3 separate regions of the Homo sapiens genome follow, and all the other regions are linked to region 2. The links come from fine-mapping of genetic effects on gene expression. A gene starts in region 2. Each other region holds a variant in brackets. All regions are shown on one strand. Distances are from middle to middle. Region 1 overlaps COL17A1 (collagen type XVII alpha 1 chain). Region 2 holds the start of COL17A1 (collagen type XVII alpha 1 chain). Region 3 overlaps CFAP58 (cilia and flagella associated protein 58).

The links.
Region 1: its variant is fine-mapped to the expression of COL17A1 in whole blood (TOPMed, PIP above 0.99).
Region 3: its variant is fine-mapped to the expression of COL17A1 in spleen (GTEx, PIP above 0.99).

Annotation. Positions count from the first base shown.
Region 1 is chr10:104,029,691-104,037,850 of GRCh38, reverse strand. It overlaps COL17A1 (collagen type XVII alpha 1 chain), which reads left to right. Exons shown (of 56, transcript NM_000494.4): 46 at 78-215; 47 at 738-806; 48 at 1,219-1,359; 49 at 2,288-2,377; 50 at 2,478-2,588; 51 at 3,084-3,230; 52 at 3,517-3,906; 53 at 4,476-4,613; 54 at 4,883-4,945; 55 at 5,097-5,177; 56 at 5,561-6,565. The coding sequence ends at 5,616. Among named protein-coding and RNA genes, the nearest start is that of MIR936, 14 kb to the left of the region's middle. The variant C/T (reference allele first, on the strand shown) is at 4,240.
Region 2 is chr10:104,082,811-104,090,992 of GRCh38, reverse strand. It overlaps COL17A1 (collagen type XVII alpha 1 chain), which reads left to right and starts at 5,113. Exons shown (of 56, transcript NM_000494.4): 1 at 5,113-5,270.
Region 3 is chr10:104,442,532-104,450,713 of GRCh38, reverse strand. It overlaps CFAP58 (cilia and flagella associated protein 58), which reads right to left. Exons shown (of 18, transcript NM_001008723.2): 16 at 2,897-3,016; 17 at 510-643. Among named protein-coding and RNA genes, the nearest start is that of LINC02620, 34 kb to the left of the region's middle. RefSeq lists an enhancer at 4,611-5,810. The variant T/C (reference allele first, on the strand shown) is at 4,562.

The DNA of each region.
Region 1 (8,160 bases), 53 kb after region 2:
GTGCTTCAGGTCACCTCCGTGGGGAGAACATGTCCTCTTGGGACAGGCTTGACTTTGCTTTGTTCCTTGGTCGGCAGGTGACAGTATTAGATCTTACCTATCCGGAGTTCAGGGTCCCCCAGGCCCACCTGGTCCCCCAGGACCTGTCACCACCATCACAGGCGAGACTTTCGACTACTCAGAGCTGGCAAGCCACGTTGTGAGCTACTTACGGAGTAAGCCCTTCCCCACGCCCTGCACCTGGCACCTTCCTCCTGTGGGTCTGCTTTTGCTCCCAGAGCCTCATCTCCTCGTTTGCTGTTTGCTTTGCCCTTCTCTGGAACATGAGTTTTAATTCCGAATTCATAATAATCGGGCCACTGGGATACAGTGTCAACAAGGGTCTGTCCAGATTCAGGGCGGCCACGCTGGAGAGACACCGAGTGAGCCTTCCGGCAATTGACTAATGTGTTCCTAATTATAGGTTCTTCCCACCTGTGCATGAAGGTTGGCAGCATCTGGCAGGCATTAGGCTAAAGCATGTTCTCAAAAATAAACTTCCTTTCTTACAAAAAAAAAAAAAATCCCAACAACAGTATTTGACTTTGTTATGCTTTCAAAATAGCCTCGTAATACTCCATTCATCCACTTCCCCCAAAGACAAACAGCTCGGTGACCGGGCCTTTCAGATTCTGGAATAGTGAGGGTGTTGCTTCAGTACCTGCTAAGCAGGTAACCTGAGGTTTTCTTCCCGACAGCTTCGGGGTACGGTGTCAGCTTGTTCTCGTCCTCCATCTCTTCTGAAGACATTCTGGCTGTGCTGCAGCGTGAGTCACCTGTGGGGGGATCGAGGGTGGGACTATCTTTGCTTTCTCCTGGCCTCACTCGTCATGCAAACCTTGTCCTCGTCTGAGCCTTGGAAGGGCTGCAAGAGGGAGGCAGAGTCCTTTGGACAAAGAGCCACTTACTGCTCTGATCTGCTTGCTGAGTCAGCAAACCGGCTGGAAAGGGGGCAGGAAATGTCCTCCCAAGCCCCCATGCCAGACAAGCTGGCAGGTGTCCCTTTGGGAACCTGGCAGCTTGCTGGTGTCCCCCCTGAACACCGTGGTCCTGCGGACCCAGAACTCACAAATGTCACGCAGGAGCCAGTTTGTGCAGGGGAGCCCAGGCTGTGGCTGGATCATGGCTGCGACCCCCATGGCCTGGGTGGGTCCTGCTAGTGCATCCTCTCCTCTCCAGGGGATGACGTGCGTCAGTACCTACGTCAGTACTTGATGGGCCCTCGGGGTCCGCCAGGGCCACCAGGAGCCAGTGGAGATGGGTCCCTCCTGTCTTTGGACTATGCAGAGCTGAGTAGTCGCATTCTCAGCTACATGTCGAGTAAGTGTCTGCAGGAGGGGTGGTTGGGAAGGGCCTGGGATGACTGGGATGAGGACTCGCAGCGTGAACTTCCCTGTGATTGCCCCACTGACCCCCACCTGCCAGACTGCACCAACCCCAGCAATGAGCAGTGCTCAGAGCCGTTCAAACCTGTGAGCCTGGAGCAGGTCAAGAAGCATGGCAAGGAAAGCCAAAACGGGGGTCTCAGGCACTGTCTCGTGTGGAGTCTACATACAACTCTCTCTCTCTCACACACACTCCCATACACACACACCCATACTCACACTCCCATACACACACACACTCACTTCCATACACACACACCCATACTCACACTCCCATACACCCATACACACACATATACACACACTCCCATACACACACACTCCCATACACACACACTCCCATACACACTCCCATACACATACTCCCATACACACACTCCTATACACACACTTCCATACTCAGACACACCCATACACACTCACATATGCATACACACACGCATTCCCATAAACACACTCCCATACTCCTGTACTCACACTCCCATACACTCCCATACACACACACTCATACACACTCCCATACACACGCTCCCATACACTCCAGTACTCACGCACACTCCCATACACTCCCATACGCACACTCCGATACACTCCCATACACACACACACTCACTCCCATACACACATACTCATACACACACACACACAGAATGAAGCACACAGGCACACTGGACCTGCTTCTCCGGCCCCGTGGGCCCCTCCGTTCCTCCTTTGGGCTCCTCCTCTCTGCCTCTCTTCCTGCCACCATCTCTTTTCTTTCTTGGACCCCACTTCTGTCCAAACCTCTTCTGTATCCGACCTCCTCTCTGACAGGTGTTTCCATCTGCCTCCCCCTGCCTGATCTGAATCCATCACCTCCCTAGGTTCTGGGATCAGCATTGGGCTTCCTGGTCCCCCGGGGCCCCCTGGCTTGCCGGGAACCTCCTATGAGGAGCTCCTCTCCTTGCTGCGAGGTAAGGCCCAGCAGGGGACATCTGTCCAACTGGTTGGGGAGGAAGCAGAGTCCCTTGGCCCAGGCCAGGACTGACTCCGTGCCCTCCCTTGGTGTCTCAGGGTCTGAATTCAGAGGCATCGTTGGACCCCCAGGTCCCCCGGGTCCACCAGGGATCCCAGGCAATGTGTGGTCCAGCATCAGCGTGGAGGACCTCTCGTCTTACTTACATAGTAGGGCACTGTGGAGTGGGATGGGGAGGGCAGGGGATGCAGCCGGGCCTTGGGGGCTCCCATGGGCTTTAGCAAGGGCAGTCTAAGTGCTCCTGGAGCCTGTACAGTGCTGGGTGCAGGGCCCTGGAGAGCGCCACATGTGCTGGCAAGGGGCCTTCAGCCGTGGCAGGGACAGAGGTGGGGAGAGATGGCTTTCCCAGGCGCAGCCCGGTGTGTGATTAGGGCCGACCTGGGGCTCCACCTCTCAGTGACTGGAGGGCTGAGTTGAATGAGGCTCAGAATTGGGAGTGGGAGAGCCTGACGGGAACAGCCATTCCTGGATGATGTCAGGAAACAGCAGGCTCTGGCCTCCTGCTTTTCTCTCCTCCCATCACCCGGGAGGCCCAGCCTCATCCCCTCCTTTCAGGTGGGGCCCACAGCGCCCCGAGCACAGGCTGGGAATTCAGCTTCCTCCGCAGCACTACCCCGACCTTTCTTTCTCTTCCTTCTGCCCAGCTGCCGGCTTGTCATTCATCCCAGGCCCTCCAGGACCTCCTGGTCCCCCAGGGCCTCGAGGGCCCCCGGGTGTCTCAGGAGCCCTGGCAACCTATGCAGCTGAAAACAGCGACAGCTTCCGGAGCGAGCTGATCAGCTACCTCACAAGTAGGTGCCCCGACGGTGATGCCCCACCAGGCACCCCGCAGGCCTTGCTTTTCCCTGTAAGTGGGGCAGGGAGGCACTTAAAGGGACAGGAAGGCCACACGAGAGCCACTGGTGGGGTAAGCCCGGTTTCCTTCCACACCAAAATTCTCCCACTCGGGTACAAGAACCCTGAAGTTCACTTCTGGTCTCTCAGGGGCATTGACACCCTGGGAGAGACTCCCTAACTCCCAAGTCTTTCTCTCCACCGAGATCTGAGCTCCCACTCATGCAGCTTCTCACCCTGCAGGTCCTGATGTGCGCAGCTTCATTGTTGGCCCCCCAGGCCCTCCTGGGCCGCAGGGACCCCCTGGGGACAGCCGCCTCCTGTCCACGGATGCCTCCCACAGTCGGGGTAGCAGCTCCTCCTCACACAGCTCATCTGTCAGGCGGGGCAGCTCCTACAGCTCTTCCATGAGCACAGGAGGAGGTGGTGCAGGCTCCCTGGGTGCAGGCGGTGCCTTTGGTGAAGCTGCAGGAGACAGGGGTCCCTATGGCACTGACATCGGCCCAGGCGGAGGCTATGGGGCAGCAGCAGAAGGCGGCATGTATGCTGGCAATGGCGGACTATTGGGAGCTGACTTTGCTGGAGATCTGGATTACAATGAGCTGGCTGTGAGGGTGTCAGAGAGCATGCAGCGTAAGTGGGGACATTTAGGCCTTGGTGCTGGGGGGAAGGAGCGTGGGAGCATCTCCAGACTGGCTTTCTTGTTTGTGGAACCCCCAGGCTGTGAAGACAGAATCAAGCAGGCAGGGGCTGGAGGGGACAGGCAGCCCCAGCCTAGCTCTCAGCCTACTCAGCTTAAGGAGCCCCAGTCCTGGGACCCGAGCTGTGGGGAACAGAGCACGCTGGGGGCTTTGTACTTTGTTTTCCCAACACCTAGCTCGTTCTGGGTCCCAGATGAGTCATATGACCATGCTGGATTTTCTGCTGGGGCCGAGAGAAGGATGTTGGCTAAGAGTCCTTTCCCCG[C/T]GCAGCTTAACGGCACAGTTACGCAGTCAACAAGCTTTTGATGCCGGCCCACAGCAGGAAGAGACCTGTGCCAGTCACACAGTGGAATACAAAGGAAGTTGGAGGGCTTCACCCTTGCTGCGGCTTGATCTAGTTCAACTGCTTTGGGAGTTTGACACTCGGAGGGCACTGTGCTCCTGCTGAAGAGGGTACTGGGAGATCCCTGCTTCCTGTGCCCAAGCTCTGGTGTTTTACAGGTCAGGGCCTACTGCAAGGGATGGCCTACACTGTCCAGGGCCCACCAGGCCAGCCTGGGCCACAGGGGCCACCCGGCATCAGCAAGGTCTTCTCTGCCTACAGCAACGTGACTGCGGACCTCATGGACTTCTTCCAAAGTAAGGGCATCCAACTGCTTTCCCAGCACCTGCCTCACTGCATAGGTTCCCACGGGTCTGCTCCAGAGACACCAGTCTCATGAGAAATCTCCAGTTATTAACATTTGAGATGCTCAAAATTAGACAAATTCTATAAATTCTGAACTTTGTTTCCTCTTACACGTCCAAACTCCATCACTATCTCTCTGTGTTACTCTGAACAAATGACTTGATGTCCCAAGCTTCCAGGTGATCAAGACTCTAAGGCCAGTGTTTCCTTGCTTTTGCAGCTTATGGAGCCATTCAAGGACCCCCTGGGCAAAAAGGAGAGATGGGCACTCCAGGACCCAAAGGTAAGTGGTGGCAGAGAGCCAGTCCCTGGATCCTGTGTTAACACCCACCTCGTACTGAAAAGCAGCTCCTGTGCTGGTGCCACACCGGCTACCTGTGCCCTCAGTCCCCAGACTCATGTATTACTTAGTTACGCCCCATTTTTCCTTCCAGGTGACAGGGGCCCTGCTGGGCCACCAGGTCATCCTGGGCCACCTGGCCCTCGAGGACACAAGGGAGAAAAAGGAGACAAAGGTAAGTGTTGACTGCTCCACGTTTTGCATGTTCTGGAGGGCTGCAAGGCTGACGCTCATTAGAGAAGCAGGTGATTTGTTCCAGAGCAAGCCTGAGAAATTCAGGCAAATGCCAATTACTCCAGGCAGACACTGCCAAAAGCAGAATTTGCATAACAATCCCATTCACAGTGAGGAAGAAAAGGAGAGTGTCAAAGCAGGGAGGAAAAGGAGAACCAAGCTGGTGTTGAAATGGGGCAAACAAGTTAAATAAATGTAGTCTTACAAAAGATTTCACCTTTGAAGCCATCTTTGCAGTAGTCACGGTTGCCATAATTGCCCAAGCCAAGATCCCCACAGGCCACAAGATATGTTTTAACTTCCTACTGATCTTCTAACTTTCAGGTGACCAAGTCTATGCTGGGCGGAGAAGGAGAAGAAGTATTGCTGTCAAGCCGTGAGCTAGCCATGGCAGGACAGCTCCTGGACCAGGTCTCATAATGCATGTGGCACTTAGGTCCAAGGTCTCCAGAGGGTGAAAGCTGGAGTCTGTCAATGTCCTACTGAGACAGCACAGCCAACCTAGCTAGCAACATTTGTTTTAGTCTGAACAATATATACTTATAGAATTCAGTCAAAGATACACAATCTGAAACAGCTTCATGGGGTGGACTCTAACAGTAGTTGCAATGTTTTAGAATGAGACTTACTTCTCTGCTATCTAGATCTGAACTCCTTGGCTTCTTTACTTAGTTCAAGCCCCAGCCTAGGAAAGCCAGTTACATAAAAGTTGGCTCAGGAGTCTTAGAGCTTTACCTAAATATGAGCCCAGAAAACGGAGGATGGGGGTGGGGCGCCTTCCTGGAGGTGACACTTGATGGGGGTGTGTTCTGGTTACTGTTCTAAGGCTGTGCCATCAGCTCCTTCCTCCCCTGTTCATTCTGCATTCTCTAGTCAGTTGGCTAAGAAGTGACTCTTGCAACTAAAAAAATTAAGAAATTCACTTCCCCTCTAGGAGGTGATGATAGGGTTTCTAATGGTTATATGTATATCACATTCCCATTTGCTTAGAAAGTCTGATTGTAGCTATGATTGTCCGTAGGCCCATACTAGAGTTCATGGATATGTTATACTGAACCAGGCCAGAGCAAACAGAAAAAGAAGGTTGAGGGCAATGGACAAGGAAGGAATAAAGGGAGAAGAGGGAAAACAGAAAACCTGATGCTGGGGACACAGCATCAGCTCAAGACGTCACCCTCCATTCTGCACTCAGAAAATGGCACTTGGGGGACTGGGCGCAGTTGGTCTTTAACCACTTTTCAATGTCTAAAAACATTTGTTTGTGGTCTATAAGATGAAACATCATTTCAATCGTAAAATTTCCCATTAAAGAAGTTTTTTTTTCTAATATCATGTTTAATGTGATTCGTCTGACCAAAGAAAGATTAAAAAATAGTCTGGGTTAATTGGGTCTGATTCTAACACTGTTTATTACAAACACAAGAAAACAAAAGTGGTTGTATTTTGGGGCATAGCTTCTGGTATTTCATTCAATCCCTGAGGTCTTCAAAGGCAAATCTTTAGATACCTGCAACTATGAACTCAATCTGGGGATTTTACAAAGCACATGAAAGTTTTCCCCAAGCATAAGTTATTTGAAATAAACATGCAACAAATGAGCAAGAAGATTACTTGCAATTAGGTAGTGCTTTATCCTGGGGCAATGGAATTATGATTGTAGGGCAAGTAATATATGGAATATAGAAACTTCTATTAAAGAAAAATGTACAAATCTCAAATGCCCCAAAGAAATGCACAGTAAAATCAGACACTCCAATTGAGAAGAGACTCTACTTAGCCACTTTGTGAATTTGTTACAAGTTGTGACTCTCAAATTGCTGGATAATTAAAAATGGGATTAAATTGCATCTATTTCTACACCACTACTCTTCTAAAAAGACTTTATTTTCCATAAGGTCTCTGCTGAGTATCTCATATTATCCCAGAAAAAACACTCCACTTGTTTCCTCTATATCAAACAACCGCTAACGGCAACAACCAGTCAAGCACTACACACTCTACGTGGTCTTTTTGCCTCTTTTATTATATCCTGATAATTGCCTGCTATGAATTAATGAGAATTTTTTAAAAATAAGGCTGGGCGCGGTGGCTCATGCCTGTAATCCCAGAATTTCGGGAGGCCGAGGCGGGCAGATTGCTTAAGCCCAGGAGTTCGAGACCAGCCTGAGCAACATGGCAAAACCCCATCTCTACTAAAAATACAAAAAAATTAGCCGGCATGGTGGCGGGCACCTGTGATCCCAGCTACTCGGGAGGCTGAGGCTGAAGAATCACTTGAACCCAGGAGGTGAAGGTTGCAGTGAGCTGAGAACGTGCCACTGCACTCCAGCCGGCAAGACTCCATCTCAAAAAATAAAACAAAAATAAAATAAAAATTAGTTCATACAGCCTCCAGATTTCAAACAACTTGAGTTTTACTAAGCAAAACTATTGTGTATAATAAAGGAATTGTGCTTTTTAAATAATTTTTTTTCAAAAGAATTCATTAGTTTTACCCAAAGGCTGAATTTTTTACTTTTTAATTGTAGCTTTTACACTTATTAAAAGTAACTTCCAAAAAAAGGGGGGAAAAAGATGTTTTGACCCTTTAAAAAAAAGTAGCTTTAGGGGTTCAAGTATTATATCCCCTTTAATAGTGATCCTTATCTTGATTAATCAAGACATAGGAGTTTTTTCCTTGTTACTAGATCTACCTAAGATACCCAAAGTCTTCATCAAGTTTTAGCTCAAGTAAAATAGGGTACAAGTCCAAACTTACTACCTTCTCTGGACAAAACTCAGAAAGAGGATGGGCAGATATGAGGTTATGTCCTCAGCTGGATGGCAATGGATGTTAGCCTCTTTTGTTTCATTTTTTTTTTTTAAGTCAAGAATGAGCTCAATAGTGCACAACGCTCCCAGATTAGAAAATGACACTCCATGCC
Region 2 (8,182 bases):
ATATTCTTCTGTATGTTGTAATTATTGGTATATGTGGTGACTGTGTTCATATATTTTTTCTTTTTGTGTTGTAAATTACTGGAAGGCAGGTTTTATATCTCACCCTCAGTTGTATTTCTACACCTCATGCCTTGCTCATGATAGACACTCCATAGGTGGTAGTCCACTCACTCAACAAATATGTATGAGTTTTGAATGGAAAAATGAGTGAATAGATCTGAAGTTGGGAATGGAAGAAAAGGAAACCAGGGTGCTTTGTTATTATAATCAAGGCAGCAAGGAACACAACTGGCGATAATTCAAGAAGCCCACATGGGAAGGGCAGGAGTTCGTACTACTTAGCTATGTCCTTCCAAAAGCCAAACAATTCCACACACCATGACATATGATGTTGTCATAATTGTGTATAGAGAAGTCTTATCTAGTAGCACATGCTAAGCAAAGAAGCCAAGCCGGAAGATGGTCTTCCAGTCTTAGAACAGTAGTAGGCAACTAACAAATAATTGTTGTATTATTTTTATTTAATATGTGAGAATTGGTTTTTTTAAAAAAAAATCAGTGGATTTACTGTCCAACAAAAGAGCTGAATCAACAATTGTAGATACTGGAATTACCTCAGTAAATTTAAAATTATTTTCCCTCACCTCCTTTTCAGAGAACTTTATTTCTTATTGTCTCTTGAGAATGGAGGGCAAAATGTGTCCCAAAGCTATAAGATACCTCGTGAAAGTATCATAAGCACATCATGGCACTATCATGTGATACTGTTTTTATGAGAAAAGAGTCATAGAATAGGTAGAAATCCACCTATTGGGTACACCCCTTTAAACCAAACACATAAAGAAAATATGCATCTACAAAGATTCATAAGGTAGTGAACAGTCACTTGGCAAAAGCACTCACTCTGGTCACCAAAAACAAATCCCTTTTCAGAAACACATCAGTCACATAAAGCAGAGTCCGCCTGTACTCACGCTGCTCAGAGAGTGATGCGTCTGGTCACTTGGTGCCAATCTGGGCCACACGTGAAAAGACACTCTTTCTCCCCAGCCTATTTAAAAGTCAGTAGATAATTTTGGAAGTATAACTATTTTTCCAGGTTGCCTTTTAAGGGACTTTCTAGTCCATCAAAAATGGATTAATGTGACTCATTAACACAGCTCCAAATGCAGTCAGAGAGCAAAAAACACCTTTCCAGTGTCTTAGTCACTTCTATTTCCTAAAGCTGACTCTTTGCTTCTTCATTTTGGCAAGAATTTTGTTGTTTTCTGGCTAATTTAAAAACATTTAAAAGACAGCTCCCTTACTACCAGGCATATGGTAGGAACTTGATACATAAATGTTAAATGAAGTTTCTTTCACTGTATGTACCATGTCTTACTCACAGATTTGCCAAGTACAATAATCTAAGAACATTGAATAACTAGAATGTGAGTACTTGAATTCTTTTTTCTTCTCCCCCAAAATACCTAATATAGGACTCTGTAAACACTACTCACACATGCACATCTGAATATGTGAGAACCTGCACATGCACACACAGACATGCAGTCTTATTAGCTGTTGAGTTAGCTTAGAGCATCCTTGACTAATTAACTTTGGGGGTTATCTGTTATAGATCTGACTGTTCTATTGTACCTGGAGAATACCAATATTTTTATAGGAACCCAAGGGTAGGAAAATACCATCCATGCTGATTCTGATGGTTGCTTAGCATGTTAGCTTTATTTTATTTTTTAATTTATTTTTATTTGTAGAGATGGGGGTCTCACTATGTTGCCCAGGCTACTCTTAGACTCCTGGCCTCAAGAGATCCTCCTGCCTTGGCGTCCCAGAGTGCTGGGATTATAGGCATAAGCCACAATACCTGGCCTGTGTGTTTGGTTTTATATAGTTGTTATAGTTGAAAAATTGATTGGTCTGTGGTTGCTGAGTTCTATAAATAGATTTCTATCTAAAACTATCAATAAGTTATTCCAATACCATACTGCTGTTAACTGAAAACATCCCCACTGTTCAGATGGTTTGGGGTTTTTTTTAGTTGTAATTTGCCCTCAGCCTGATCTGTTCTAATATTGCCTATTTTCTTTCAGTTGAAAGCTATGGGCAGACTTAAATTTTAATAATACACAAGGCAGTGGGAAATGAAGGTCCAAGAGTCAAGTGGAATCTATTAGACTCTGCCACTTATGAGATGGAAGACCCTTGGCCTGTTACTCAGCCTCTCAAACTTTACTTTTCTCAGGTATAAAATGAAGGTAATAATGGTACACACCTCTCGGAGTCGTTGTCGGGATTGTGTTAGAGAATGGATGTAAAAAATCTGGCTTACAGTAGTTCTAGAAAGCATTAGTTGCAGTCGTTCTTCTTTCCTGGGATCAATAATCCGAACACCCACACAGTGCCTGTAGGGAGTTGCTCCTTAATGTCAACTTAACATTTGCCACATAACCCAAAACATGACCCTCCACAGCCTGTGAGGCCCTGTGTGATCTAGTCCTGCCTCCCTTGCCAGCCTCTCGCCCGCTGCCTGCCTCCCTTCACTTGATGCTTTTGAGCAAATTGGCCTCATCACTCTTCCCCCAACTCACCGTGCAGCTTCCACCTGAGAGCCTTCTCAGAGACTCTTGCCCCATCTAGATAGTAGAACACTCTCCACCCTGCCCTTCACCTGTGTGATCTCTTTTCAACCTTCATGTATCACTTATATAGCAGGACTTTTCCTAACACCCCTCTCCAAGATTATGTCTCTTCTTACGCTCTCACAGTAGCCAGTACTCTTTCTTTCTGATCTTGCTCTGTCACCCAGGCTAGAGTGCACTGGCGCCATTATAGCTTACTGTAACCTTGAACTGCTAGGCTCATGCAATCCTCCTTTCTCAACCACCCGAGTAACTGGGACTGCAGGTACATGCCATCATACTCAGCTATTTTTTTTTTTTTAGTAGAGACAAGGTCTTGCTATGCTGCCCAGGCTTGTCTTGAACTCCTGGCCTCAAGTCAGTATGCTTTCTTTATAATAGTTATCATATTCTTGCAGTTGCTCTTATAATATATATATATATATAATCTGCAATTATATATTGTACGTAACTGTTATAGGCTGAATAATGTCCCTCCAAAATTCATATGTGAAGCCCTAGCCATTAGTACCTCAGTGAATTTATTTGAAGATAGGGTCTTTAAAGAAGTAGTTAAATTTAAGTAAAAAAGGAGCCCATCAGGGTGGACTCTAATTCAATCTGACTGTGTCCTTTAAGAAGAGGAGATGAGGACACACAGAGAGAGACATCAGGGATGTGCATGCACAGAGAAAGGCCATGTGAGGATACTGCAAGAAGGCGGCCATCTGCAAGCCAAGGAGAGGGGGGTCTCAGGAGAAATCAAACCTCCTGACACATTGATCTTGAACTTCTGGCCCACAGAACTGTGAAAAAATAAATTTGTGTTGTTTAAGCCACCCAGTCCGTCGTATTTTGTTATGGGAACCCTCACCGACTAATACATTATGTAAGGCCTGTCTTCCTCCATTAGACTGTGAACTCCATAAGCAGAGGGACTATGTTCATATTTCACCACCAAACTCTTAGCACATAGTTTAATGTCTGGCTCCAAGCAGGAGCCAATATATTTTTGTTTAATTCTTGAATTCATGAATAAAGAAATAAATGATGCAGGGGCATGTCTATTTTATGCTGAAAGCTCTGTGTGTTCTGGGTTCTTCAGTGTTCTTCTACTATGAAACTGACGGAAGACATATTGAGTATTTATTTGGGGAAGGCAAGAACATCCTACAAAGCAAGTGTCAAATTCTGCATAATTGAAAGGGTTCTGAAATGCACGACTCCAGTGTGGAATATGGGCAGCTTAGGAGCAAGAGCCCCACAGCTGTTGTTGTGGTCTGCTACCCTTCCATGGGATGCAGTGCCCACAATAGCAAGGTGCAGTTGCACATCGGTGCTATGCTGTAAGGGCCCCACTGCTCCCCTCCAGTATCTTAGGATAATGCCTCAGAACTGGGAATCCCAGTGTGATGCTGGGTCCCAGGAATGTGCTATGGCCTCAAAGGACTGCCTGAGTGAGTTCCAGGTTCAGACTTCCCATTTTACCAACACCAAGTGTCTCAAGCTAGTCTTTAGGCCCCCTGGGAAGCCAGATGCTATCCAGGTATTCATAAGAATTATCCTGATTGATGCAAGTTGACCCTCTAGGGAAATCTAAAGGTCCCCAGGATGTACTTGGAGTTGCAGGACATCTGGGAGCCCACACATGTCTTTAGGTGTATGGAGACTATGCGGTCACCTGATTTGAAGGACAAGAAGGTCCTTATCCCTTCCCAACAGCACCTCTCTCCATTATTAGGTGGCTAAATGCCTAAAATTCCATCACTAACATGTCACTCTTTTAGGTCAGCATCACTATATCTGGTTGCCTCTTTTGTAAAACGAACCCCTACCCCACCAATTGCTCAGTACATTCAGTCATTAGCATATTATGAATTAGTTCACCAACTATTTTCTCCAGATGGGCTTGACCTGGCTTGAGTCACAAGAGGGGAAAGAGGACAAAGACATCTATAGGGGAAACAAGACAAAGGACACAGGACACAGGAACAGAGGACGAAGACATCTATAGGGGAAACAGATCTTGAATATAAATCCTGCCAACTTCAGTTTTTCTAGGGCTCAGGCAGTATGACCACAGGCCATCCATGTGCCTAGACCATGCTCATCCATGAGCCCATCCACGTGCCTAGACTCATGAATCATGCAGTGGGATTCCAGTACCCATGGCACTGAGGAAGGGTACTGCCACAAAGTTGTGGCAGTTCTCCAGCTGTAGAAGGTAGGCAATAAAAAAGCATTTCCTTTATGCTGGTCCTTTGTTTCCTTTTCCCCATGGGCCTTATAAATAGTTAATCTACCTAAGCTGGAAGGAGAAGCTTTCTGCCTCCAGTAAAGTTTGATTCCTGGAGGCAGATTTTTTTTTTAAATCCAGCAAGTGTCAGATAATTGGAAGGGTGGAGTAACGCTGTAAACCATGACACACCTTTGTCAGGACATGTTTGGAAGCAAAGAGTTGAAAGAAACAAGGTGGAGAGAAAGAAAAGTGAACATTTTTGAAAGATCACTCAGCTTTAACACACCTTGGCTGGGTCTGGATAAAAAAAAAGTGAGCACTGCAAATTTCTAGAAGAAAACATCAGGAGAAGAAAGAGAGAGGGGGATTTATTCAAAGTTGTTTCCAATTCCTTCAAAACCTCAAACCAGGTAAGTAAACAGGAAGACTGACCTTTCTCCTTTTCTCTGAGACTTTGATTTAAGGTTTGCCATTTAGAAATTAAATGTTTATTGGAGAAAAGAAGATGAAGTTCTGTAGTTTCTAGCATTCTGGTTAAAGTGATCAATTGGTTATAAAAGATGACTTTGGTGTATGCATTCTGCTTAGGGTAGGTCTTTCAAAGGAAATAAGTGGGGAAAAGGAGAAGGCTGAAGGCTGGTTAAAATATAGCGGGCTTTAGAGGCAAGACCTTTCTGCATTGTTTTCAGCATTGTAAAATGACTTGTGTTGTTTTATTTAGAATATGATACGGGCTTATAATTCCTTCTCTCCCAATCTCAGTTTCCTCTCTCGCTATCTTGCTCTCCTCTTCCCTCTGTCTCTCTCTCCACTGGACGAAGAGAACAACTCAGGGGTGAAGTTAAAGTATAGGTAAGGGGGCCTTCTAGAAACAGTCCCTGTGCTGACTGGGCCTCTCTGATTAAGCCATACATGGTAAACATTGCTGTTTACCATGCTGTAAAATTACCTCTAATCTAAAGAAAAGTAGGATCTTTGAAATGATCTGATTAATTCAGAAATTTTGCAGGATCAAACTTAGAGGAATAAAAAAAGGAAGAAAATTGTTTCCCGTATATATACTCTTACGAGTCAACTTGGGTTTCCTCCTGCCAAAAAAATTCACTTTGAGATGAGAATTACCAGTTTAGATACCTAAGTGGATGACGTTAACTGGTAACTGACAAATTATCACTTTACTTTTTGAAGTGGAGGCAAAACCTCTGGCACATTCCTTCTTTTGAGAAGTAGTTAATCAGTAGTCTAATAGTGGACTTGTAAAACGTAGCAAGATTTTTAAAAGGTATTTATTTGAAAAGCAGAATAGTTTCTTCTTACCTCCATATGTTCTCTCTTAGAGCTAAGGCACAGATCTGTCAGAACTAACCTAAGACAGATGTCTATCCCCACACAGACTCACTCCAGAGATTCAGAGGTGTCCTGCTTTACTCTTAGGCCCTGCAAAACACCCACATGAGTCTGATCAGAGTTTACACAGGAACAATTAAAGTGAACAGCTCTGCTTCAAGCTTGCATAGAAACTTACCAGCCTGGGTAACATGGCAAAACCCTGACTCTACAAAAAATACAAAATTAGCCAAGCATAGTGGTGTGCGTAGTGGTGCACACTCATATTATACTAACCCCATCTCTACTAAAAATACAAAAATACAAAAATTAGCTGGGTGTGGCGGTGCATGCCTGTAACCCCAGCTACTTGTGAGGCTGAGGCAGGAGAATTGCTTGAACCCAGGAGGCAGAGGTTGCAGTGGGCCAAGGTTGTGCCACTGCACTCCCACCTGGGCAACACAGCAAGACTCCGTCTCAAAAAAAAAAAAAAATAGGAAAAAAACTCCTTAGATTGGTGAAACTGACCTGACCTAAGAACTAACCACCTTCTCAGATTATGAAAAACAAAAAGAAGTCTGTGTTTACATTGTTTGTTTCATTTGCCATTATTAACAGTGGCAGGACACAACTGTAAACAAACCAGCATAATCACAAAGCTGGTGCCCTATCCCACCTGCTCCCAGTCATGAAAATCCAGGATACCAAATGTAGCAAGCAGCAAACCCATCTCTGGGGTGTTACAGAGACAAAGCCTCCAAGATATTCAATTCCAGGGCATTGGCTTTCCTGGCATCAAACTGCTGGGCCCTTCTGTGTTATCAGGTCAATAGCCAGTGGATGGTTTTCTAATACTTTGGCAATTTTGTTGTTGTTTTGTTTTAAAATTTAAAGTGTATAGAGAATGGAGTAATAGAAGCTATAAAAATACTTGCAATTCATTAGCAGAGTATAGGAACATTTGTTCCTAAAACAAAAAATAAAGAGAAAAATACTTAGCTTCTTCATTCTCTTTGTTGTATCAAGAACAAAGTGTTTCATGTGTCATTAGAATAAGATAATGTGATGGTTTAAACCCAAATGTGATGGTAAACAGTTAACGTGATGGTTCACTGTCACTAACAGTGGTTTGTCCTTGTGTGTGTGTGTATGTTAGACAGCATCGGCTGAATAGTTTTAGGTAGACGTGACATCATTTAAATAAAGGGGAAAGGAAAAAACTCATAAAAGTAGAAAAATGATTTAAAATTGTGTCTTCTTGCCTAGAAAAGTGACATGGGATCATTTTTACACCTTCACAAAAACATTAGCTATAAAATAGCCACAAAGCAACCCTTTAGAACTATGGATGGAAATTAGTATAATTTTGGAATTGAGAGCTTGAATGATCTGCTCATCCTTAGTTCTAGTGAAGTGGCCCAAATATCTGAGAAGTTAAAAATTATGTTATTTGACAGTGCTTCCATTAAGTAGGACTTTTGGAAGACGAACACACTGGTGAATCCTGCTAGGATAGGCAGGCTCAGGCATGTACCTGGGCAGGAAACGTTCCTTTTCCTAACGTTACACTTTTAAAAACTATCAGCACTTAAAATGTGTAAAAAAGAAGTCCTGGGAATATACTGTAGGTCCCATGGGAAGATCCTAGTCCAGGCTTGTGCCCCACGCCATCACTCTCCATTTAATATAACTCACTTATAGAAAGTTTCCTCTTATATTTCGTTTAAAGGAATCAGTCTCCCAACACGTACCTGGCACCTCAGATTGGCTGTGGAACACACAGACATTGGGGTGGCTTCAGATTGAGAGAGAGGCATCTACCTGTACCTGCCTAGAGCAGGTTATATCCACAAAGTACCTTCCAATGAGGAGCTCCCAGGCCCTGAAGGAGGGCATCTGATTTCTAAGTAGGTCATCACTTCGTGCCCTCTGGAAGTTGGGGAATCCTTAGCATTTTACTGCAGAAGTCAAGGCTTTGTCATTGGGATTCAGGGAA
Region 3 (8,182 bases), 360 kb before region 2:
AAAATAAATAAATAAATAAATAAATAAATAAATAAATAAATAAAACATAGGTGAACTGCTAGTAGTTATAGTGGTACAGGGGCATCATTAGAAAGAACAGCTTTACTAAGCCCTGGTCCCTTAGCAAAAGCACATGTGGTTTTAAATGTGAATATGCTGTACAAGGCTGATTTTGAAACTCATTTGCAAACATAGTTATGACATTATTATCTCCAAACCATAGACTAGTGTGGGGAGAAAAGTCATATTACATTTCCTCTGCTCCATGGTAGATCCACCAATGAGCAGATATTAATGGATCCCTGTTAGAATCCCAAGGAGGGGACTCAGTATCAGATGAGACACTGATCTTGCTCTGATACAAACTTAGTGACCTGTAGAATGTCATTTGTTTACCCTGTGATTTAGTTTACCCCAGTGAAACTTGCAACTCTGTGACTGTTCACCAAATATTTTCTTATGTGCAGATAATAGGCACAACAAAATTAGGACGTTTGACTAATTCTTACTTTTGAAGTTGTTCTTTACGTTTCTGAGCGAGGTATTTCTTCTTTAAATTCTGGAGCTCATTGGTAAGTTTCTCTACCTCATATTTATATTCTTTGCTCTGTACTTCATACATATTCAATTCTGAAGACAAAACCTAACATGGCAAATAAAGCAGCATTAACAAAAGATACAATATCCTTTTCTGAGAAATCTTTTAATCTGCTACCATTTACCGCAGTGGAGCTAGAGGTGCAAAACAATGCCCAAGTTTCACAATTAATCTGCATGCTTCCACCAGCTCAGGGTCCACATCTGAGTAGAAACCTGGCTGAGGGCTGAAGATGCATCACTAGGTTGCAACTTTAAACAAAATATCATTCCCCCACTTAAAACAAGAACTATTAGACAACATTCGAACAGGCTCACAGATGAATGGTCTAATGTGCTTCAAGGAATATCATGAATAGAGACAGAAAACTCCCAGACACACAGTCTAAAATTGCTTTTAAAGCCTTAAAAAAAAAGAAAATATTCAAGAAAAACATCACCAGAGTGTGTGATTCATCTGAGGATTATGAAAAAAATTATTCTGAAGTCATCCTGCCATCACTGCTAACTAAGCATTCAATTTATGTGTTTTCCAGGGTTGTGATGCTGCTGAATGCCTATCCCCTCTTTACTGTGTTCTTCGGGACTCTTCAAAGCCTGACTATCTGCTTCCTTCCATTGCTGTGTTCGGTAGCTGCTGCTGGGCTTGGGCTGGACAAGAAGAGTGGGAATTCACTCATCTGCATAGGACATAGCGCATGCCAAAGCTGGGGTGTGCTCCCCACCAAAACCAAAAAGAGAAAAGGAAGGGTATTGTTCTAACAGGCATGCAATAGGCTGGATTTATTTTTCCTCTTGCTTGTTGTTTTAAATATTTGCATAAAAGGGAGATCTTAGCCTTCTTAGTGTTCATCTGCTTCTGAACTCTTTCTTCTTCACTGCTGTGAAAATGATTTTGATTAGGTTATCATGGGCTAAAGAACGTAATTTTCATGCTGGAAAAAAAAAAAAAAAACCTGTCTCAGTAGTTAAACTTTTAGAAACAAAGACCCTCCTTCTAAACAATGAATGTGGAATTTCCTATAAGAGTAGGTAAGTATCAAGGACAAACTGGCAGACATGCTCAGTACCACCCACCTCTAAACCTCTTCATGAGGGGTCACATTTCATTTGAGCAAAAAATCTGGATTTCCTGAGATAAAGGGTTAAATTCACAAAAGGCTCCTGTGAGCCTTTGAAGGCAACCCGGAGCTCTGTGTGAATAAGACAGCTCTGTGCTTTTCTAATCTATATCTACCTCTGAGAAAACAAGAAAATAATTTGTTTTGTTCAAAATATTCAATTGTTTAAAGGAACAAAATAATCAAAAGATTACGTCCTATGCAAAATTCAAATTATGTCTCAAGATACTCAAGTGAAATGAACATTCAGAGTGACAAATTGAAAATTAATGCTCTAATTAGACTTGTTTCATTTGCCCTTTTAAAATAAAAGGATGCAGTTTTACAATGTCCTATTTTTGAAGGGGTTAGGGCTATACTAGTAGGGTGGCATATATTTTACCCCAGGCAGAAAGTCAACGATTATTACCCTCATTGGGCAGGAAGTGCCAGAATTCAACTGGCACATGCTTCATCCTGTGGCTGTGTGTGTAAAACTTCCCTGATATGCCAAGAATAGCTAAGTACTTGCTTAGAAGGTGAAGCTCAAAATATAGTGTGAACATGCACAACTTTTGAGAAAACTTTCAAAAGGCACATAGAAAAGTAAAACACTCCATATCTCTGCAACTGAGGGTCTTATGTGACTTAGAAGGGAATCACACTATCAAAAAATCTTGCCTGATTTTATTTCCCTTTCATGGTTACATATTTGACAGCTGGTCAGGAAGCAAGGCCCTCAGGGCTGGGCAGTGGCTGGACTTCTTCTGTGTATGTTTATTTCAGATGGGATGGAATACCAGGGACCCACTGTGGCACGGCAGTCTGCTTCAGTTGGTCAATGGTGTTAAAATATTTCCTTTGCTCCTCCCTGCCCTTCAAGTACTCTAATAAATCATCTCAAGATCATTCATCCAAACCCTGTCCGCACATCTCCATTCTGTTGTCATCATCTTTTCCTCCCTTGCTCACCTGCCTCTTTCTGGAAATGGAGAATGGTGCTGTCTAATAGTCCAGGAAGAGAAGGATAGCTCTGAGGTCTGCTGGCTCATCCTAGACTAGAGCTCTAAGGGAGCTGACCTCAGAGGATCGTGGCATTGAGAGACTGGCTCATTGTGTGGAGTCAGTGGACTTGTCCAGGTGTGCTCCCCAGAGTGTGGCTGCCCTGGAACCCGGAAGGAACAGGGGCTACCACTTACTTTCAGCTGCTGCTTCTTGTCATGCAGCGTGCGTCGGTACAGCTTCAGCTGTTCCGCAGCCTCAGGTCCAGGCTGGCGGGCCAAGACGTGCTTTAGTTCCATGTAGAGTTTCTCCTTTTCCTAGTGGAGAGCAGAACCAGGAGCAGAGATAAACAGCCCCGTCAAAACAGGGAAAATGCCTTTCACTGCATGGCCAGCACAATTTGGGAGTGGCCCAAGCTACTTCACAGCTCCACAGTGATCACATTCACTCACAGATTCATTCAGTCATGCATTGAAACAATCCTTATGAAGGGCTGGGAATGTCCCCAACATTTGGATACAAGTAATAAGACAATGAGTAAGAGAAAGTTCCTCTCTACCTGAACATAAGATCACAAGGACTGGGAGACAAGGGCAGGATACAAGATCTTGCCAAGAAAAGGAGGGAGTGACTGACTCTGGTTGGAGGAGTTGGTTGCAGGAGGAAGTAAAAAAGAGAGTTTTTCAAGAAATATAATAGCCTGGTGCAGTAGCTCGTGCCTGTGATTCCAGCACATTGGGAGGCTGAGGCAGGAGGGTCGCTTGAGGCCAGGAGTTCAAGATGAACATGGGCAACATAGTGAGACCCCGGTTCTATTTAAAAAAAAAAAGAGAGAGGAAAAAAAGAAAAATACAAAAATTAGCCAGACATTTTGGTGCATGCCTGTAGTCCCAGCTACTTAGGAGGCTGAGGTGAGAAGATCATTTGAGCCCAGGAGATCGAGGGAGCAATGAGCTGTGCACCACTGCACTCCAGGCCCCATCTGAAAAAAAAAAGAAAAGAAATATGATGGCATGGGAAGAAAAGAAATCTGAAAATGTCTTGAGGGAAGAGGTAAATATCCAAGGAAACTTGGGTATGCATATTTGTAGACCTAAAAGAAAGGATTTTCTAGAAACCCTAAGCAAATGATAATTCTGTAACTTTATTTAAACAATAAACAATATGAAATCCTCATTTGAATCCTAGAGTTTAATTGCTTGTAAAGTGTTTTCCGACCCTTGAACTAAAGAAATTACATATAAGCAAAGATTTATTTCTAAAGCATCTCAATTCTAGATTTCCAAATCACTAAACTGCAATAATTTGAATAAACATTGATAAAGTCTAGTGTGTCTACTCATCAGTCTCTGTACACATTTATTTCCTTAAGATAATTGTGGTAAGCACAAGCCCTGTCATTAAATGAAACATTCAGTCAAATGGATATTAATTTTTACCTACAGCTAAGTATTCTTAGTATTGTTATCAAATAATCTGCTTTTAGCAGAAAATATAAAAGTCATAAAAAATCAGGTGAAAGAAAAATCATTAACTAGTCATTGTTACCATTTGTTTCAGTTTTTCCTTTTCCCTGGCCAAATTATTGAAACTCCATTACAAAAACATAGCTCTATTTATAGAAGAGTGTATGCAACTTAAAAAGTATTTGGATGGAATAAGCTCTGGGAAAAACACATATGAAAAAAATACTCACCATTTAAGAAATAATTCCAGAAATGACAAGGAAATCCAAAAGCCCGTGCCAAAGAAGAGAACTTGAACAAATCAAATTACAAAGTGATGATCTTCCCTTGCTGTACAACACCTCCTGTCACACCTTACAATATAATCTTGAGAAAGATATCAGGAGGTGAGTTTAT[T/C]TTCTAGAGACACTTAACACCTACTCTGTTGGGAAAATAACACTTCTGACAAGGCTTCAAGATTCAATTTGGAGAGGGTAATAAATATGTGGAGAAGTCCATGAAACAGTTTTGTCCATTTCTTTCAGCTCACCTTTCTCTATACCAGAGTACAGATAGACTTGCAAAGGAAAGAACCTCACAATGACAGAGAGAAAGCAATCTGGTTTGGAATATAATAATGTCTTAAACTGAAAAGACCATCTTACTCCAAGCATCTTGAAATGTTTCACAGGTGTAATTCTCTTCAATTACTCTTGGTAGGTTGAGAGGAGAAAGACACAGAGAAGAAAGTTTGAAAGAAACAAAATATTGTCACCTCACCACATAGGTGAGGATCTCAGCATCAGCAGGAATTAATGGTGCCTCCACAGTCCATTGGCAAGTCAAAAACCTAGTGATGATATACCCCAAGAATCACCTTTCCTGTGCAAAACTTCCCCTGGGGCTCAAAGACATGGTATCACCCTGAAAATATTTGGGCAAAATTGAGCTACAAAATTCCATCTACATGATATCATGGATAGAAGAATCAAGCCAGAAAGTGGAATCAGGTTCAAAGCCACATTAGAGAGTAATGATGGTAAGAGCATGACTCACCTCCTCCATCTCCCCATCTACACCATCTGAATAAGCCCTGCCATGTCCTCTAATAGAAAGTACAGTGTTCTGACACAGAGTGAATGATGTTGTCATTTATCCTGTCTTCTTCGTCACTTCCAATATTTTGTTTCTTTCCTTTTTGTTCTTTTGGTTTGTTTTTTGTTGTTGTTGTTGTTTTTTTTTTTTTTGAGACCGGGTCTCACTCTGTCACGCAGGCTGGAGTACAGTGGCACAATCATATCTCACTGCAGCCTCAACCTCCTGGACTCAAGCAATCTTCTCACCTCAGCCTCCCAAGTAGCTGGGACTATAGGCATGCACCACCATGCTTGGCTAATTTTTGTACTTTCTGTAGAGGCGGGGTCTCGCTATGTTGCCCAGGCTGGTCTCCAACTCCTGGGCTCATTTTATCCACTCACCTCAGCCTCCCAAAGTGCTGTGATTACAGGCCTGAGCCACCACATCCAGCCTAGTATTTCTTTCTAGGCTTTAACCTTAATTGAAATGGATTTATTATAAAGAATAGCTGAGCAACTGAACTGTGAGGGCCCACAAGTATGGAGAAAAGTGAAGAAACTGAATTACCACTAAAGCTGTCTGGGTAGTCAAAGTCAAAAAGTTCTGAGAATTAAATAACCCAGGGCAAGTGAGCCCTGTGTGTTCATGGTGGGTAGAAGAAATAACAAATGAAACTTCAGGGACTAAGATAGTGGAATACATGAAGAGCAGAGGCAAATGGAATGGGGGCAGTTGTTGGAATGTGTATTGCCCGGCTTCACTGTGCGTGAATTTTGGTCAATGCTTACAGTGGAAAACCTGTCTGATAAAGCAAAGTCTGGTCAGCATTAACATTCTAGCCTTGTGTATCATACAGACTCATATTTTTGGAGAATGTGCTAGTAATTTAGATAAATATGAAATGTTTGATGGATTGAAGGTCTTCAGTACATTGTCTTCCAATTTATTTCTCTCGTAATCCTCTACAAGGGCCAACCAAGCTCTTCAAACATTGTGCAATGGTGTGTATAATAACCCCATTTAGAGACAAAGCGTGCAATTCTATTATAAAGAGAATCTATCTTATGCAACAGAGACTCATTAGCTGTCCAATGTATATTGTCTCCATAAGCCAGCAGTGGCAGAACCAGCTGCCTTATAATACATATCCTGTCCTTCTTTACTAAGCCACATCCATTTCTCTTTAGTCAATTAATTTGTCACTTGGTTAGAAGCACCATATGTCAATGAAACATCATAAGAATATCATAAAGAGGATATTATTTCCCCACCAACAAAAGATTGCATCTTCAGTTTGGCATTTCTTTTATTCCGAGTTTTCTGGTGATGCACAGCAATATCGCTTTGTAGCATGCCTCACTATTTTATGAACAGCTGTACTGGAATCAAGCTCAACTACTAATACCAAAATACTAGCTTTCTCTTTGGCTAAGCATGTCTTGAGAGCACTAACCATACTATGTCCATCCTTGAAATGATAGCCTCTTCCTAGACATCCTGTTCTCTCCGTTGGACAGGCCATCAGATGTGATTATGAATTCTTTTGCTGTGAAGAATCTGCCAAGTTATGCTGGGTAATCACACATCTCATTGTCAATATCAGCTAAGTATGGTAGTAAGAAATTAATTACAGTATTAGCTTCCAGTAATGCTGTTATTACATGGTGGCAGTCTGTAACCTCACAATGGAAATTCCAGACATATTCTGAACAGCCTATGCAAATAAGAGTCAGTGCTACTCCAGGTACAATTCAGAGGGAGAAATTGAGTTTCTCACAGAACTCCTTTCCCCACCAAGCTACAGTTTTATAATCACTGTCTGTTTATATCTTCAGCTGAAAACAGAAGGTAGTTCACATTCAACATGCACCTCAGCACCCCTTCTTCCTCAGCTCGCATACACGAAGCAATAACTGACTGAGAGGAACTAATTTATTCCATTTTCATCTGAATCTGTATTTGGCAAATGCCAGTGCATTGATTCTGCTCACCCTGGAGTCATCAATTTGCTTGGGTGAGAGTTGGGAAGAATCACCTCACTCTGTGAACAAGCTGACTCAAGCGAAACAGGCAGCTTTCCTCCAGACCAAAGACACATGCTTATCTACACCTACCAGGGCAAAAGCTACCCACTCAGATGCTTGAGTGCCAAGAACTCCAAGGAAAGAGATTCCATCTTGCCTTCACTCCAGCCTTACCCAATGGGTTCAAGATAATGTTGATTTTTTTTATTCAATAACCACTGCTTCTGAGAGAAGCTACTTCACAGAATACACAGAAAATCTCTTTCTCAAAATGTCAACAGATATCATGTTACTACCAACAATATTTTATCTTTATAAACCCATTATTTCTCTCCAACTGAATTTTGAGCCTTTAAGGCCAGAACCATGGTGAATCTCTCTCTATATAACTCGCACCTGCTGTTGTGCTCTCCTCATTCTATTGAGGAAGCTTAATAATTTCATTGACTGCAATTACACGGTCAGGTCAGCAAACTATGCCCATCGTATTTTACCAACATACATCAATACAGGTACAGATATATTTGTGTTGAGAACTTTTACTTGAATTAAACCATTCAATAACATCTTCCAGTTAGCAGAGCTTGCATAATTCACTTTATTGAGCTGGTCCTATGAGTTCCATCACTTCGAGCAATATTTTTTTATTATGTATGTTGTGTATAACTCAGAAAATCACTTGAGGTACAACTTTGCCTTGATCTCTTCAATATTTGTAGAGGTTTTCTGATAGTTCAAGTAGTTTCAAACATTTTTTTAATTCATAAGACTTGCAAATGTATTCAAATTAATTGGCTCTGAAAAGACTACTTGTATGTGCATGTACATACTGATACACATAAATATAAAAATGTAAGCATAACTTTTTTTTTTTTTTTTTTGAAATGGAGTCTCACTCTCTCACCTAGCCTGGAGTGCAATGGCACCATCTCGGCTC